Linked DNA regions of Homo sapiens: region 2 is linked to region 1. The links come from fine-mapping of genetic effects on gene expression. A gene starts in region 1. The other region holds a variant in brackets. All regions are shown on one strand. Distances are from middle to middle. Region 1 holds the start of MIOS (meiosis regulator for oocyte development). Region 2 overlaps MIOS (meiosis regulator for oocyte development).

Region 1 (9,695 bases):
CTCAGGTGATCCACCTGCCTCGGCCTCTCAAAGTGCTGGGATTACAAGCATGAGCCACCACACCCAGCCCTGTTTTGCTTATAATTTAAAGATTTAAAAAATATTACAAATCATATACTTGACAACTATGTAAATTTGTTTTGACAATGTTAGGTGTAATCCCAAAATGCATGAAGAAATGCATTGATTTAAAAAATTTATTTGGGGATATTCTAGAAAAGTTTTTGAAGGCCATTATTTTAAGATATCTCTGATCTTCTGATCTTCAACCTATGTGAAAAGATTACCTAAGCCATGGCACATGTTTACAGGGCTTCATTTCAGCTTGATACCTGCCCAGCCTCCATCTAAAAGCAAAACTTGCTCTCAGGTACAGACTGATTTTGTGCATGTGGAAATAAAAAGAATTGGGATTAGCCAGTCACAGACTTCACAAAATGTTCCAGTACTGTAGTAACTGAATTGCTGCCAGGAGCAGCTGTAAATAAGAAAGAAATTCGCTGTCCTTCAACTGCAATCCTTCTGGTTTTAAAACCACAACAAAAATCCTCTCCTGGATCACCACAACATAAATGAAGAATCTTAAAAAGAACATCCTGGCCAAGCGCAGTGGCTCATGCCTGTAATCCCAGCACTTTGGGAGGATGAGGCAGGCAGATCACTTGAGGTCAGGAGTTCGAGACCAGCCTGGCCAACATGGTGAAATCCCATCTCTACTGAAAATATAAAAATTAGCCAGGCATGGTGGCGCATGCCTGTAATCCCAGCTACTCAGGAGGCTGAGGCAGGAGAATCACTTGAACCTGGGAGGCAGTGATTGTGGTGAGTTGAGACTACACCACAGCACTCCAGCCTGGGCGACAGAGCGAGGCTCCATCTCAAAAAAACAACAATAAAAAAATCCTATTAGGAATACAAAAGCTTAAATTAAAAACAAACAAAATACCGAGACTGAACTACAGTGGCCCTAGGATCTATTGTAAAACGCATGTTTAGTAAAGGCAACTAGTGTAATCTCAGACCAGTCTGTCAAGTTCTCTGCTACGGTTTACTGTTTCCAAAGATACAAAGCACTCACTCAACTCAGTAAATATTTTTTGGATACCTATGCAACAGGTGCTAAGGGAAATCCAAAGTTCCATGCTAAAAGATTGCTACCTGCAAGGATCTTGGTTTAGTAGAGAAGGGGAATCAGTTTCCAAAAAGACTGAGAAAGGTGTCACTTATTCCTGTGAGGGGCTTTAGAAGAATTAGTGGCAATATGAAAAAATATATACTTTCACAAAGCTTGAGTGGAAAAGAAAGTTGAAAAAGGGACATTAGCTGGAGGAGGATGTAGAATAAATACGTTGTTTTAGGATTTATTCAATACATTTTTATTTACCACATTTATTAGGTACTGTTTTACATCCTGGTGATTAAGCAGAGAATAAAATAGACAGAGCCCCTCTGTTTTAATTAGGGAATTGGCTAAGCTGCTCTACCAGGTCCAAACAAACAATGATTTTTTAAAGAACAAAGTTTATTTTCTCTTGCATAATGGTCCAGAAGTCTGTGGTTGATCCAAGGGAGGAGGTGCCCCAGCTCCCTGAGATTAGTTTGGGACTTAGGCTAGTGAGAACAGCTTTGCCTTCCTTAATACATGGCTTCCATTTCCAGTCTGTATTTCTTTTTGCCATTTGCCAGACAGCAAGAAGAGGGAAGAGAAAGTGTATAGCAAGCAGCTTTCCTTTTAAGGGACATGATCCAGTTCTACTCACATCTTACAGGACATAACTTTTTGATATAGCCTTACCTTGCTGAAAGGGAGGCCAAGGAATGTCATGTCTAAGTAGGTCACCAAGTGCCCTGCTCAAATTTGAATGTAGAGTTATTTCCTCTTACTAAAAAGAAAAAAAATACAGAATGAAAACTGGAGATAAGGAGAAGACACAGTCTAGAAGATAACTATAGGAAAGTAAAGAGATGGCGACGTATGTGAAGTTGTGGTGTCATAAAGACAACAACAAAGGAGCTAATTTATAGGTAGTCAGTGACAAGTGAGCAGTCTTGAGTAAAGGGAGAGTATGAGTCATGTAGATTTCTGCATTCCAGACAGAGGGAATAGCTAGTGAAGAAGCCCTGAGGCAAGAGCATGCTTGTCATGTTTAAGGAACAGTGAAGTCACAGGGATAAAAGACAAACCAGAAGAAAGTGATGATATGCAACAAAGTGAATGAGACATGTCAAGAGAGGAAGTAGTCAAGAACAACAGAAGTTGCAAGAGTGAAGCTTTGGCCATTGAAACTGGCAGCATGGAGCTCACAGGTGACCTTGACAAGTGGCAGTTTCGTGGCATGGTGGGCATGAAGGACTGAATGGAGTGAATTCAAGGGAGAGAGGGGGAAGTGGAATTACAGAGAGCAAATATGATCCTCTCCTTTGAAGAGAAAATGGGAATAACTTGAGTATGTGTTGAAAGTAAAGAACCAGTAGAAATGGAGAGGCAAAGATACATGGAAGTGAAGTAATTGATGGTGCAAGGTCCCAGAAGAGGAGATATACATGGGGTTCCTCCTCTTACTCTTTGTCACCTAAAAGAAGGTAAGAATGGTAGTGAATCAAGATGTTGGAGGAGGGAAGGAGGAAGCAGTGGGAGGTTGTGCAAATTCTAGCTAATAGTTTTAATTTTCTTTTCTGAAGTAGGAGGCAGTGTCATCTCCTGAGTGCAAGCAGAAAAGTTGTCCTCAACTATGTATAGTAGGAGTGGATAAGGAAGAGATTTGTATTGATCTGAGGTTTTGTGTGGGGGTTTGAGGCCAGGGTCAAAACCACTGAGAAGATTGGCAAGATAGTGTTTGAAGTGATGAATACTGTCATGTCTCCTCTCAGTAATACAGCACTTTCTTCAGCCTACATTCTTCTAATGGCAGGATTGGAAAGGCAATACTTTCCCCAAACTCATCATCTTATCAAAACCATCTGCCACCAAGATCATCAGGACTAAGCTCATTATGCTGTTTACAGCCATCACCACCACAAGCCCAAGACCACCCACTTTTAATCATGAACAGACAAGCAAAGACTGTCAGACATCTGAAGACTGCCTCGAGGTCAGACTCGTGACACCTGAGGCAGCACCATTCACTCAGTTTTGGGAACAAAAAACTTGGAATCCTCTTTCACCGTCATTCACTTGGTCAGTCACCAAGCTCTGTTCATCCCGCCTTCTAAGTATTCCCCAGGGCCCCCACTTCTCTCCATGCCCACTCTCCGTGCCACTGGTAACCTGCGTTTCTATCATCCCTCATTCTGATACTCTATCCCTCCAGCTCTCTGCGCAAAAACTGATCATACTGGCCGGGCACAGTGGCTCATGCCTGTAATCCCAGCACTTTGGGAGACCGAGGTGGGCGCATCACGAGGTCAAGAAATGAGACCACCCTCGCCAACATGGTGAAACCCCATCTCTCCTAAAAATACAAAAAATTACCTGGGCGTGGTGGCGCGCGCCTGTAGTCCCAGCTACTCGAGGTGCTGAGGCAGGAGAATCGCTTGAACCCGGGAGGCGGAGGTTGCAGTGAGGAGAGATCGCGCCATTGCATTCCAGCCTGGCGATATAGCCAGACTCCGTCTCAAAAAAAACAAAACAAAACAAAAAACTGATCATACCACTTGCCTGATTAAAAACTTTCGATGACTCTAACATTGCCTTTAGGTAAATGCCATCCAAACTCACTAAACTGGTTTCCAACCCGTTTCTGAAAGCACCTTAATCTCTCCCCACTTCCTCTGCTCATTCATCCATACCTACTGCCTCCTCACTGCTATGTCCTCTCTCCTGACCCGGCACTTGCTCTTTCCCAGTCCTAGAAGGCTCTTCTCTTCCAGTTCCCACTGCCCTTTTCCCTTTCCTGGCTAATCCCATACTCATCCTTCTTGTCTCAACCTAGTGGTCCTTAAGGAAGCTTTGCTGACCCCCGACACCGAGCGGGCGTCCCTCCTGTGTAGCACTGTGTTAGCCCTACCAAGTCAAGGCTCTCCTTGCCTGTTTCCTGCCGGAACCATGTCTTTTTACTTCACTCCTGTCTCCTCAGCATTCCAGCACAGTGCTGGGTACATAACAGGTGCTCAAGACAAGTTTGTGGAATGACTAATGAGTGAATAAATCATTAACCAAACACCTTGGATCTCCTACTACATCATTTGCAAAAAAAAAAAAATGTTTAATAGAAATTAAAATGGACCCAGTGAGCTAGAGTGTGTGACCCTGCTTAAAAACGACAGAGTGGTTCTGAGAAGCAGTCCCAGCCTAGGAACCCGGGGATCCGGCCTGTGGACCCACGGGCAGGGCCTGCGGGGTGCACCGGCGCTTTCGGGCGGAAGGCGGGGCCTCCCGGCCAGTGACCCCGCCCCGAGGCGCCTCCCGGGCGGGGAAGGGCGGGGCTCGCGCTGGGAAACTCCCCTTCCAAGGCCGAGGCGCCGCTGCGCGTCCTCCAGGCGTGGTGGTGGGGTCGTGGGTCCCAGCCCAGTGGTCCAGGTCACGGGCCGCACGGCCGCGGCCGCCATCTTGCCCGCGTCCGGGCTCCTGCGGCGGGCGGGGCGGTGTCCCGGCCGGAAGCGGCTGTGCGGCGGCCGCGCTGCCACCTCAGGTCAGTGAGCGCGACCCGGTTCGCGTCTCGACTCTCGGGAGCGCCGCGGCCGCAGCGAGGGGCCGGAGATAGCCTAGTTGAAAGGCCCGGGCGTCTCGGCGGGGAGCGCGTTCCGCGCTGTAGGGTAATCGCGCCGGGCGGCCGGCCGCCTGGCCGGGCCTCAGCGGGAGCCACCGGGGGCTGCGGGCGGCCGTGGGACCTGCGGAGACCTCCTCGGGGCGCAGGGAACACGCTACAGCCTTCGCCGCGGCGGGCTTGTGGGGAGCGGCGTCCCAGCCTTTCCCGGGAGGCTCAGCCAGGTGCCTGGAGCGGGAGAGTCGGACTCAGATTCCTGCTTTACCTAGAATAGCAACGTGCCCTGTTCCCGTTGTACCCTCTTAAATACTATACTTCTTAAACGGCCTGTCTCCCGGTGAGCTCTGTTCTCTTCTCATATGAGTAATGAAAATTAAGAGGATGAATGAAACCTCACACATGTTGTGGACTTTGCTGAATAGGTTAGCAAATGACTGCAGGCCTTTTGTATATTTTAAGGGAAATTTGGATATGTGCAGTGCATCTCCTCGAAGATGCTGATGGTGGAAATTTCTTGAAACCGCTCTCGTAATTTGCCACGGTAAGAAAAGTAAAAGACAACATCAAAAAGCATGTGGTTGGATCCTTTGTACACTGAGTAGTATTTTAATGTGTTGGACTTCACTGTCCAGTAGCCACATGGGATTGAGATGTGCTATAAGTGTAAAATACACATCGGATTTCCCAGAGTTGGTGCCAAAAAAACGTAAAAATCCTCAATAATTTTTGCATTGATTACATATTGAAAGGATAATGCTGTTGATATGTTGGCTAAATAAAATGTGTTTTTAAATTTCATTCCACCTAATTTTACTTTTTAAATGTGGCTACTAGAAATTTTTAAATCATATGGCTCACACTGTATTTCTTTTGGACAGTGCTGTTGCAAATATTCTGGTGAATGAACACAGAATCAGCATGGCTTTCCTTTGCTGAGAAATCACTGATGGGAAGTGAGACTTGTTAAACTTGAAAGGTGAGGATATAAATACAAGCTGTAATTATTGCAGACCGCACCCCTTCTACACCTAATTTTTTAATGTCTCCAAAATTTGGAAAAAACATTAACTTTCAGGGCTGATTAAGGGAATGGTAGTAATACTAACATCTGTGTGATGTGAAGAGCTCATTTCAGTTGATTGTCACAGCTTTGTGAGATGGAAATGGGATAGATTTTATCTCGGTTTTATGGTTTTGGAGTATTACAAGATTTGTTAGGATCTGAGCTGGGGAGTGGCTGTAGGATTTCTGACTCTAGATTGTTTTCTTTACACCAGATTCTTGGTGATGTATGTTCATGAGCAAGGAACTGTTTATCCTGTATATTACATGGTGAAAAAAAATACACTTCTTAAAAGGGTGGACATAGATGCACCTCTCTATACAGGGCTACTCTTATGATGTGCAACCTGTGCAGTAGCACAGAGCCCAGCATTTAGAATGGCTAGCACTTAGTTTAATGGCCAGTCTGCTGTCACTGTCTGGACATTGTAAATAATTTTTAAATGAGGGGCCCTGCATTGTTATTTTGCACCACGTCCTGCATATCGTGTAGCTGATCCTTTTCTTTGCAGTAATCTAGGACGGAAGTTGAGAGACCTTGGATAACCACCCAAACATCTGGTCTTCACTTTACTCCTTTGTGAAATTAGAAGATTTAGCTAGTCTTTTTCTCTCAAGTTTTGATTCTGTATGAATTACTGTCATCAGATTTTGTGGATGGCAATAGAAGTATTTTAGGTGCATAACATGGGAAGAAATGCTGATATTCTCCGTTGAGAGTCATGTAAATCAAAGTTTTAAATTTTATGCTAAAACTCGTATTTTATGTTTTGTAAGATGGATTTTTCTTTGTGGCATCAAGATTGCTTACCATAGACCATTGGTATAAAGAGTCGGGTTGTGGAATGAAAGCCTAGATAAAAAGTGTGTTTATTTAAACATTGATTTTTCAATGAGATGGGAAAATGGCCCAGATCTCATGATGTCTCCAATTAAGAGATTTCCTTTGTGGGGGTATGAGTATGAACCCTTATTTGGCAGTATCTGTTCCTCTTTGCTGTCGTAGCTGCTTCCTGTTACGTGAGGTGCCCCTCTTCCTCCTCATTCTTAAATTTTGAAACTCTTTTTAAGGTTGGACTTAATTTTATCACTACAGTGCAGGTTTTTTTTAGACCAGAGACTTCATCGGCTCATGTTTGCTGCTGTGTTCCCAGCTTCATAACCATGCCTAGAACATAGAAGGTGCCCAATCAATAGTCACAGAATAAATGAAAGTATAATAGCAGACATTTAAATCTTGGCCGGAGCCAGCCTCTCCTAGGGAGCGTAGAAGTGGAAGCATGAGGAAATAGGTAAAACTTGGAGATAGCAGTTGTGAGAAGTGTCAGAGGGATCATTCAGCACATGCATTTATTTAACAAATGTTTATTAACTTCCTACTAAGTGCCTAGCACTGTACTGGGGACTAGAGGTACAATGGAACACCAAAAATACTTCACCTGCTCTCATGGAGTGTATAATCCAGTAGAAGAGACAGAGATGGATGATTAAAGGGAAAGAATACTGTTTAATGACAGTGTATGTCTGAGTAACCAGACCTCGACTAGGGAGGGGATGGAGGGTGGTTGACGTCAAGGTTGAGCAGGTATTAACTTGGCCCAGAAGACAGGGAACTGTGCTCTAACCAGAGGAAACATCATTTGCAAAGGTATGGTGATGAGGGAGGAGGGTATATACTCTAGGAAGTGGAAAGGACAGTGTAAAAGGACAGCAAGAATGTTGTGCCACAAGGCCGGTGCAGTAGGCAGAGACCAAAAGCATTTAGGGTTTTGTAGGTTATACTAAGAGCAGCTGAAGACCATTAGAGGGTTTTAAGCAAGGAAGGATAGCCTGGTCAAGGTTGTGTTGTAGAAAGATTTTTACTCTGGTATTCTATAAAGCAAAATTTCTGAAGGACCAGGGGAAAGATGAATAAAAGAAAAGCCTCCAGCACCACACACCAGATATGTTGTATACCTTAATTTACTGAAATCAGTTTTCAGAGGCTTGAGACTATCCTCTGTGTGGTAGCACTTGGAAGCCTGAGTGAGGAGACAAGATGATAAATAATTGGGTTGATCTAGGACTGGGGAAAGGCAAACCCAAAGTGGCAAGGAAATGAAGACATTGAGGGTGCTAGTAAGAATATTGAAATGATTGATCTTGGGCTTGAGAAATGCTAAAGAAGGAAATAAAACCAGTATAAGAATTCCTAAATCAGTGGTCCCCAACCTTTTTGGCACCAGGGACCAGTTTCATGGAAGACAATTTTCTCACGGATGAGGGGTGGGGGTGTGGTTTCAGGATGATTCAAGCGCATTACATTTATTGTGCACTTTATTTCTATTTACATTGTACTATACAATGAAATAATTATACAACTCACCGTAATGTAGAATCAGTGGGAGCCCTGAGCTTGTTTTCCTGCAACTAGATGGTCCCATATGGGAGTGATAGGAGACAGTGACAGATCATCAGGCATTAGATTCTCACAAGGAATGCACAACCTAGATCCCTCTCTTGCACAGTTCACAATAGGGTTTGCACTCCTGTGAGAAACTAATGCTGCTATTGATCTGACAGGAGGCGGAGCTCAGGCAGCAGTGTGTGAGATGAGTGGCTGTAAATAACAGATGACGCTTAGCTCCCTTGCCTGCTGCTCACCTCCTGCTGTGTGGCCTGGTTCCTAACAGGCCAGGGAGCAGAACTGGTCTGCGGCCCTGGGAGTTGGGGACCCCTGGTCTAAATTATATGAGTCTATGAAGTTTTAGACTGGTAATTCCCAACTGAAACTTTTGCAAGATCAAAAAGAAAAGCAATTATGTTTGAGTTGAACTATTTAGTGTATCCTTATTAGGAGTCTATGCCAGGCTCTATATATGGCACTAAGGATAGAGAGGTAAGTGAACCATAGCTTTACCTTATGAGAACTGACAACAGAGTTGTACAGATGCCAATTGCAATGAAGATTTTAAGTATGTTCATTCTTTTTGAATCTATTACCTTTTGCCAGCCTCTGTTAGAAACAGGCATTTAAATTTTTGTAGGCAACCTTAATTATTGAAACACCATTTTTAACTATAGCTATATTTAGTTCGTGTGCTTCTACTGCTAGAATATTTATTTTTTTCAAAAATTCTACTTTAACACTTATTCAAAGTTTGTAGAAGCGAAAACTGAAAGAGCCTCTAATGATCACTTAATCCACTTTCTCAGAGTGTGGTATGTGTGTACCACTGGTCATAAACAGGATGCTTTGTAGATAAAACACAATCAAGCCTTTTTAATAGTTATATATTTCAGTGTAGGTTAAAAATATATTTAGCATAGCATACCATGATTCATGGACCTTATGAAGAGATTAAAGTCAATTTTCAGATTTTAAAAATGAGTCAGTTTAAAGAAAAATATTAATGGCATAGGTGTTACATGACTGAAGTTTGGGAAATACTAATCTAAACCAGCTCCTACATTGTGTAGATGAGAAAACAAAGGGGTTCCCCACACACAATGACTTTTCTGAGGCATATAACTAATATACGGCAGAGCTAGGACTAGAACTCAGGTTCGTTCAGTACATTCCAGTGTTTATTCTGCCATACAAGGCTGATGCTTATTACTAAAGTTGAAGAAACCGCTGTCTTAGTATGACATTGTACTTTAAATCTCCATTGTTCATTACGATGACCACATATGGTTATTTATATTAAAATTTGTTAAAATTAAGGTTTAAAATTTGAATTAGTCACATTTCTAGTGCTCAGTAGCTACATGTGGCTAGTGGCTACCATATTGGACAGCATGAACATGAAACATTTCTGTCATTGCAGAAAGTTTTATTGGGCAGTGCTGCTTTAAACTATTGCTTAGGAATATGATTCATAAGTTTTCCCCCCTTCAAAGGGATAATACTTATTAATTTGCTTACCACACTGAAGTTGTTATAAC
Region 2 (9,695 bases), 40 kb after region 1:
CCATCTGATCTTTGACAAACCTGAGAAAAACAAGCAATGGGGAAAGGATTCCCTATTTAATAAATGGTGCTGGGAAAACTGGCTAGCCATATGTAGAAAGCTGAAACTGGATCCCTTCCTTACACCTTATACAAAAATTAATTCAAGATGGATTAAAGACTTAAACGTTAGACCTAAAACCGTAAAAACCCTAGAAGAAAGGCAATACCATTCAGGACATAGGCATGGGCAAGGACTTCATGTCTAAAACACCAAAAGCAATGGCAACAAAAGCCAAAATTGACAAATGGGATCTAATTAAACTAAAGAGCTTCTGCACAGCAAAAGAAACTACCATCAGAGTGAACAGGCAACCTACAAAATGGGAGAAAATTTTTGCAACCTACTCATCTGACAAAGGGCTAATATCCAGAAGCTACAATGAACTGAAACAAATTTACAAGAAAAAAACAACCCCATCAAAAACTGGGCAAAGGATATGAACAGACACTTCTCAAAAGAAGACATTTATGCAGCCAAAAAACACGTGAAAAAATGTTCATCATCACTGGCCATCAGAGAAATGCAAATCAAAACCACAATGAGATACCATCTCACACCAGTTAGAATGGCGATCATTAAAAAGTCAGGAAACAACAGGTGTTGGAGAGGATGTGAAGAAATAGGAACACTTTTACACTGTTGGTGGGACTGTAAACTAGTTCAACCATTGTGGAAGTCAGTGTGGCGATTCCTCAGGGATCTAGAACTAGAAATACCATTTGACCCAGCCATTCTATTACTGGGTATATACCCAAAGGATTATAAATCATGCTGCTATAAAGACACATGCACACGTATGTTTATTGCAGCACTATTCACAATAGCAAAGACTTGGAACCAAGCCAGATATCCAACAATGATAGACTGGATTAAGAAAATGTGGCACATATACACCATGGAATACTATGCAGCCATAAAAAATGATGAGTTCATGTCCTTTGTAGGGACATGGATGAAGCTGGAAACCATCATTCTCAGCAAACTATCGCAAGGACAAAAATCCAAACACCGCATGTTCTCACTGACAGGCGGGAATTGAACAATTTGAGAACACATGGACACAGTAAGGGGAACATTACACATCGGGGACTGTTGTGGGGTGCGGGGAAGGGGGAGGGATAGCATTAGGAGATATACCTAATGCTAAATGACGAGTTAATGGGTGGAGCACACCAACATGGCACATGTATACATATATAACAAACCTGCACGTTGTGCACATGTACCCTAAAACTTTAATAATAATAAAATTTAAAAAAAAATAAAGTGCTGGCTAGTGGCTCGAGTATCTAAACCTCCCTGGTGCTTTGCCTGCAATCAGAGATTGCATCCATCCATCATGCTTTGTGATTCAAATAGCTGGAATTTCTATAAGCTTATTTAACTGAGAGTTGATATTTTTATACTCAATTGTGCTTTGAAGATTAGAAATCTGTTGAAACAGTTCTAACATCATTATAAACATTATAAATATTATTTATTCAACAAATGTTTATTTGGTACCTATTGTTCCAAGTGCTAGAAATGTTACAGTAAAGAAGACAAAAATCGCTGCCCTTACAGAATTTAACTTCTGGACAATGACACATTTTTTAAAAGTTAGATTATCTACTGGTTTCCTTCATTTTCTTCTTACATTATGAGTTAATGCATAAGTGAAACTCTAGTTTCGCCTAAAGTGTTCTGTGGCACTTGTCTTCATAATTCACTATAAATCTTTTAAAATTTGAAGTCATTTGATCTTAAGCCTTTATACTTGGCAGTGAGATAGACCTTAATACTTCCAGTTTCGTCAGAAAAATATAAGGATATGCCTTGTTCTGATTCAGTCTGTTATCTGTTTATGTTAGAAGTTACAAAAACAAAGTGACAAGCACTAATGAGAGCTTTACACAAAGGTGTAAAGTAGTGTACATATCAGATCTATATTTTATTTATCTCTTCCCCCTTTCCTTTTTGCCCTCTCATTATTAATTGTTGGTGACCCTTTCAGGAGTAATTCTAGTGTGTTTACATCTTTAATCATTGAATTACTTACACATCCTTTCACCTCATATCATTAGCAAAAACGGATATTTTTTAAAACTATTCCCGACTGCAAGATTATCCTTTTGGTCATGAAAGCGTGACCTGCAATGGTCCAAGCAAAATTTTTAACATAGTTATCGATGCATAATGTCTTTATAGATAGCAATTAAGTAAAAATATTAAGTCTAATTAAGCAATTGTTTAAGTTACACAAGTCTCATGAAGTGCATTGGGAAACTTTCTGCTTTTTCTCTTCTTTGAAAGGGCTTGTACAGATGAGAATTACCTGTCCCTTGATAGATTTTTTTTTTTTTTTGAGACAAAGTCTTGCTCCATCACCCAGCCTGGAGTGCAGCAGTGCAATCTCGGCTCCCTGCAGCCTCCAATCCCCAGATTTAAGCAATTCTTGTGCCTCAGCCTCCCAAGTAGGTGGGACTACAGGCATGTGTCACCACCCCCGGCCAATTTTTGTATTTTTAACAGAGACGGAGTTTCACCATGTTGGCCAGACTGGTCGTGAACTCCTAGCCTCAAGTGGTCTGCCCGCCTCAGCCTCCCAAAGTGCTGGGATTACAGGCATGAGCCATCACACCCAGCCCTACCTGTTCCTTGAATGTTAAGTAAAATTCACTTGTAAACTGGGCCTGGTATTTTCCTTGTGGAAAGATTTTAAACTACTGATTTGGTCTCTCCAAAGTTTTAAATTTAGATTGTTTCTTAGTGGGTTTGGATTTTTTTTTCCATTTTTATATTGGCTATTAAAAATGTAGGGGAGCTTCTGTCATTCAGTTTCGCTTCATCTAAACTAGAACCTACCATCAAAATTGCTATTTCAATATGATGTGTGATTCATATTTGGAACACAGTTTTAGAAATGCTTTTTGAAAGTAACTTTAAATAAAATATTATGATATAGTTAATGAAGATCATTTTATTTTGTCATAGGAGGAACCAAATCAGATGAAAAAGTGGACTTGAGCAAGGACAAAAAATTAGCCCAATTTAACAACTGGTTTACATGGTGTCATAATTGCAGGCACGGTGGACATGCTGGACATATGCTTAGTTGGTTCAGGTAATCAGCACATTTCTTCTTTGATAGGCTTGGAGTTATGGGGGATAACACAGATTGCTTCTAAATAGTTTGGGTTTATCTATTAGCATTTAGCCAAAGTATGAATTTTATTTTTTACTGTCACTCATGTTAACAAAGGTGGTGTGAACATGTCGTGATTAGATATCCTATGTAACCTTAAACTATAAAGGTAATACTTATGTAAGAACTAATTTAAATGTTTTGTATGAGTTAAATGTTTGAATAACATTATTTAACTTTATTCGGGGAGAGGATATGTTTACAGTTTTTACACTGAATATTCTGTAATTTACCATGCAATTGAATTACTAATGAAATGTTAAAAGAGCATATCATACCTCTGCCTCAGTTCTCTTCTAAGTAAGCTTTTTATGTAGTCACGCAATTAAGACTGTCAAGACATATTTGAATTTCATTTTGAATGGTGCCAGTGGCCCTGTGCTCCTGGTTGATACAGCATTTATACCCAGTTTGTCTTACTAGCTAATTTAAACTCTGAGCACATCCCTGTCACCTTCACAACTATAAATGAAATATCTTGCCATATATGTAGAAAGTAAAAGGTATGTGTTTCTTAACTTCTCCCTAAACTTCAGCTTGGCAGTAGTTTATAATTTGATGCTTTTGATGCTTTTTTTCTCTGGGTTTTAGTTTCTATATTTTTCCAAATGCCATTTTGAAAAGTTGCATTATAGATAGATATAAGTAAACAGGTGGGCACAGTGGTGCACACCTGTAGTCCCAGCTACTCAGGAGGCTGAGGCAGGAGGATCACTTGAGCCCAAAAGTGTGCGTACAGCCTGGGAAATATAGGGAGACCCTGTCTCTTAAAAAATAAATAAATAAATAAATGTATGTCTGTCTAATTTGGATTTTTAACTGTTATTTGACCTATTTTTTTAGGGACCATGCAGAGTGCCCTGTGTCGGCATGCACGTGTAAATGTATGCAGTTGGATACAAC[A/G]GGGAATCTGGTACCTGCAGAGACTGTCCAGCCATAAAATGTTACCACCTTAAGAGAACCCTTCAAGTGTGGAGCTTTCTAGTAGGTGTCCTTCATAGCTCAGAAACATACCTCAGAACAAGCCATTCATGACTTACCTGTAATGGGAAAATAAATCATTCTATCAGATCAGCAGTTTTGATGTTTGAGTGATTTTGATATGCTTCACAGAGACAAATGCTGCCAAAATAAACATCGAAGTATAGACATGAGTTCTGTTCAGCAGGTTGAAAAGTCTGATTTAGAAAAACTTTCTAAGTTTTGGTTGAAATTATGAACACTCTAGAAGCAGAATTTCTGGAAGAGCCAAGAACAGACTTTGAGCCTATATCTTCAAAGCTGAAACTGGATATCTTTCAATAAAATATGTGCACTTTTAAAATAAAATGACTAATTCTGTGATTCAGACAATAGTTTTAAGTTCAGCTGTGCTTAGATTTCTTTCAGATTAATTTAAAATTACAGATTTTTACTTTTAGAATTGCAGAGCCCCTATCCCACACTGGAGAATATTTTTTATTACTGTCTGTTATATATGTGTCTATGTGTGTGTGTATATTTATGTGTGTATGTATAAATATGTATTTTTTAAAGGAGCCTTTTCCCTCCTTTGATTTTAAGATAAGCAATCTTTTGGCATAACATTATCGTCTTCCTAGAAAAGCCAAGATGAAGAATCTATCTTACAACTTTTTCTCTTCAGTAGAGAAAAACATGTACCATTTCAGGTGAACATACAAAATTTTCACTTTCTACCTTTTGCCTTCCAATGTCCTGATTTGTCTTCAAAGGTTTTTCTCCATATTAATTTGTCATCTTATCCTCATCACCTGAGAACATTTTACTGCATACAAAGTCTATGCAAGATTATATGTAACTAGCCATTTAGTATAATCTATGTCAGTGTTTCTGTGCTGTCAAATTCCGTCCTGATTTGGAATACCATACCTTGTTCTTTCCAAGGTAGACTAGGAAGTGTTGGGGAAATGGGGTCACTTCAGAGACCATTTTAGATGTAAGTTTTTAAATGTAAGTGTTACTGGGGCTAAGTCAGGTACTTTATTTAAAACATTTTTTTTTCTCATTTCATAGCTAGATAGTTGTAAGAGAAATACAAAGAATTTACAAGATGCTTCTCTGTCATCTGCCATATGCAGAGGGACTGAACTAGGAATTTTGTAGTTGAAGCTGTGTTCATAAAGAGTAAATCTTATTTTATAGATTTTGGAGAAATAAAACAAGAATTTTAAGAGCTTTCGTATTAGCAGTTTTGCCTTATAAAAACTAAGATTTGTCAGATTAGTTTGAGGTGTAACCTAAATATTAAAAGTAGATTAAATTTATTTTTTACCTTGAGTGTCTGATACATAAAACCCTTTTCTAGGAAAACATTGGAAGTAGTACATATTTACTCTAAATGTCTCACCTGCATGACAGTCTTTTCAAATGAAAGACATGGTAATTGCAATTTTTTTTTAAAGATTGCTATTAAGGGTACTTTTTCCAGCCTTCATTTGAGTAAATCTTAATTGATTTCATTTTATTAACATATACCCTTTACCTTTAATATTTCATTTGAAGTGTTCCTTTCAAACTTACTGTCTTAAATATGAAAGTCAGCTTTAAGTAATGTCAGACTCATATGCATTTTCATTCTCATTAGCTAAAGTAAAATGTAAAATTATCTCAAATAGTTACAAGTTTTGGAAATACAGTATAAAACATGAATGTAAAGTCTATTATGTAATATGCTTATTTGTAATCCTAATATATGAGGGTGACATTTTTAAGATTGTATGTATGTGTCAACCTCTTAAATGTTTTCTGTGAAGCCCAAACATGCAGTTTATGTCTCTGGTGTCTGTTTTGCATTTCAGTGTGCATGGACAATCAAATTATTTTCTCATTTTTATCACTAAGTCACTGGTATTTGGGTTTATAAACTCAACAAGATACTTTACCTAAACATGATCAATAGATGTGTTTATTAAAAGTGTTTTTATTATTTTTAAAAGATTGAATAAATCTGGGTTGAAGTCATTGTATCTAATCAAGAAATTATGATTCCTTTACAAATAATCCACGTGAAGTAATATTGGTGCTTTTTTTGATGACAGACTTCATACTTAATATTAGAAGTAACATTCCTTTTAGGCTCTGTTTTTCAATTCAACCCACTTTCCAGAATAGTTATTATCCTTTAAAATGGTATATTTTAAAAGTAGCTTCCCATTGTCAATGCTTCACATAGTAAGTATTTAAAAGAATGTAGTTCTTCATTTAATTAGATGACTCAATTTCAGTCATTCATTTGACTGCAAGTAGTTAAAGCATGGTCTTTGAAACATAAATTATAATCCTAGCCTCGGGATCTTCGGTAAGTGACTTGACCTTTTTGAGCTTCAGTTTCTTCATATGTTAAAAGAAAGATACAGAAATACCTACCTCAGAGTGTGGGAGTATTAGGTGATGCAATAAACATGAAGTGCCATATCCCTGTCACATGGTGCTCTATAAATGGTAGTGATTAGCAGTCATTGTTACCTTCATTTTCATAGATTGCTCATGTATCAGTACTTTTTCAATGAATACTTATAGTATAATTTTAATTATAGTTAAAATTATAAGTATAATGAATACTTATAATTTTAACGAATCTACATTTGTCTCAAGAATGAAAATTTCCTTGGTGTGAGTTAGCTGAAATAGATTTTCTTAAAAAGAGTGAAAATTCCCAATAATAGTTATACTCCAAATATAGGGTAAACAAAAGTAGCTAAGTCCTGTCTCAAAAGAAAAATGCCATAATTTGGATAAATTTATAGTATTACTGTTTTTGCTGCATGCAAAAATCCTCCAAATGACCTCCTAAGAGTTAAATGTGATATAAAAATGAACCCAGAGGAAAAAATTATGGCAAATTTAACAACTGACTATTGAAAACTTTAAGTTTTATGTCTAAACTCTTAATTTAACTACGTTTAAATTGAACTCCCTAATCTGGATACTTGGAGAAAGTATCCAGGATTATTCTGTGTACTTTTTCTTTTTCTGCCATTCTATTACACTTGATGTTCATTTAAATTATAATGTTGGGGTGGTAGTGATAATTTCAAAAGTATACTGTGAGACTTGCTGTCCCGGAATAGCCGTAATTAAAGCTAGTGGGCACAATTTCTGACATCTGCTCAGACAGGCATCAGAGAGGTAGGAGGCACATATTTGGGTCAATATCTTGTATCAAGTCTAGTGACCCACATCACAATGACAGAAACAGGCCTTGTTAGATAGCAGCTCCCCTGTCCACTACTCACTCCTTCCATTACATCATCTGCCAGTTTTCTCTCCTACCTGAAAATGTTGTAGGTTACTTTGTTGATTATAACAAGTAGCACTTTACAAATATATTAATTTTTATAAAATACTACTTTTCCCAGAGTACAGCGACAGAAGGAAAGCTTCCCAAGGTTTTTAAAAGCTAACAACCCAGATATCAAATTAACACAACTTTAACATGATAAAGTCACAAGTAAAATTAGCATCAAATGCAGCAGTATATAAATTACTGTTAATGCCTTTTATGTGCCAGGTGCCAAGCGCATTATCCTGTTTTCGCCATAAACCTATGAGGCAGTTATGCCATTATTGTCCCCGTTCTGTAAAGGAGGCAACTCAGGCATAGGGACATCAGGTCACTTGTCCTAGGTTACATGAGTAGCAAATACAGCCAAGACTTAGATTCCAGTAGTCTTGACCTGCTAATCTGCCCTTTTAATTTCTGTTTTCTGCTTCTGTGTACTACTTTGTAGGTTATATACGTAAGAGAATGATTCACTACGACAAAGAAGGGTTTATTCCAAGAATTAAGTACTGGGTAATATTTTAATTATATTTAGTATTAATATACCAAAAGAGAAGAACCACAAAGAGCTTGATAAAATTCAAAAATTGATCTCTTAATTTGTTTTTGAGGTCAGTTTTTATGCAAAGGAAATGTTTTCTCTCCATTTTCTCCCCTCCTGTTTTACTGTCTCATACATCATGATGCCTATTAGAGAAATACTAGAATCCTTCTCACTATAGACAGGAATAAGAAGTGGATGCTGTTGTCACTGGTTCTGCACATGGCAATGAAAAAGAAGAAAGCGAAAGGCACACCTTTGCTTCTTTTCCAAGTCATCAAAATTTGATATGGCAAAAATCATAGTTACAAGGCAAACAAATTGATAAACTACAACATTTATGACAAATTGCCTTAATTCAGAAAGGACATTTTCAAAGCCGAGGAAAAAACAATCAGTAGATAATATCAATCAAAGACTTGTGCAAGCAAAATAGAACTGCTGACAAATAAATGCTAAATCAGTAACATGCTGATTAAAAAGTAGAATACTGTTCGCCTGACTGCATAGATTTAAAATAATAGGCATTTTCATGGATGTGGGAAGGAAACATTCTGAGATAACAGCTTATGAGAGTTTAAGTCTTGAGGACAGGTAAACTGTATTAATCAGAAGCCGTAAAGAGTTTCATACCCTTTGACATAGTATGCTGGGAATATTTTCTGAGGGATTGATTGCATAAGTGCACAAAGATGTATATTTTTATGATACGGTTCTACACAGTATTGTTTATAATAAAAACTTGGAAACCTAAATGTCCAATAATAGAAAAGAATAAATTATTGTATATACATACAGTGGGTTACTAAGAAATGATTCAATTAGTATAGATATTTTCATTGACAAAGGTTTCTTAATATATTGGTAAGTGAAAGGGAAGTTTTAGGATAGTATATCTAGCATATAAATATATTTGTTTGGGATATGGTTAATACAGAAACTTTAACAGTGGCCATCTTTAAAGAGTGGAATTTTGAGTAACATTTTCTTCATATCTATCTTTCATTTTTCCCAATAATAATGAATATATAAATGTACATGCATCTCTCTGTCTCACTCTGTCTCTCGCGCACACACACACATACACACCATATATGTATATACTGGCTTTTAGAAAAGTTATCCATGACCTTGTATCTTGTTATTAAACACAGTGAAACAATCATATGTTAGGATTTATTCTATGCGGTGAAAAAACAGGCTACAAGATGTTATGAAAATTTGGATTGAGATCTAATTGTTCAGAAAGCATTTTCTAGATTTCTTACTCTACACTAGTAATATACAAGAATAACAAGATATAGTCCTCTCAATTCTTCATTACATTTGGAAGTAGTGCATTATGTTCTCCACTTAGCGTATTGGGAAATGAATATGTAAAATAATTCTGATTTCCCTGAGCTTAGTGGTACATGATTAATAACTTCATTTCAATATTTTTTCTCCTATATCTTCGTCATGAGATTTCCTGACTCCTCTTTTTTGGCTCTGGGTCTGTGGTGGGAAAGCTGTCCTCCTCTATGTACTGAATTTATGTGATTATTGTCCAGTCTAATCTGGCATGCACTTTGCTCAATTCATTTCCAATAATAGCAGGTTATTTAGGTTTAAGTGATGAATTCTGA

Evidence for each region. PIP is the estimated chance that this variant, and not a neighbour inherited with it, causes the effect.
Region 2: its variant is fine-mapped to the expression of MIOS in CD4 T cells (Kasela 2017, PIP 0.95).

What each region holds. Positions count from the first base shown.
Region 1 is chr7:7,562,442-7,572,136 of GRCh38, forward strand. It overlaps MIOS (meiosis regulator for oocyte development), which reads left to right and starts at 4,443. Exons shown (of 13, transcript NM_019005.4): 1 at 4,443-4,631; 2 at 5,166-5,247; 3 at 5,585-5,682. MIOS-DT (MIOS divergent transcript) reads right to left here and starts at 3,624. Exons shown (of 5, transcript NR_110084.1): 1 at 3,473-3,624; 2 at 1,796-1,883. RefSeq lists a silencer at 4,264-4,913 and enhancers at 5,164-5,233, 6,811-6,870.
Region 2 is chr7:7,602,927-7,612,621 of GRCh38, forward strand. It overlaps MIOS (meiosis regulator for oocyte development), which reads left to right. Exons shown (of 13, transcript NM_019005.4): 12 at 3,016-3,145; 13 at 4,070-6,006. The coding sequence ends at 4,166. Among named protein-coding and RNA genes, the nearest start is that of UMAD1, 33 kb to the right of the region's middle. The variant A/G (reference allele first, on the strand shown) is at 4,130.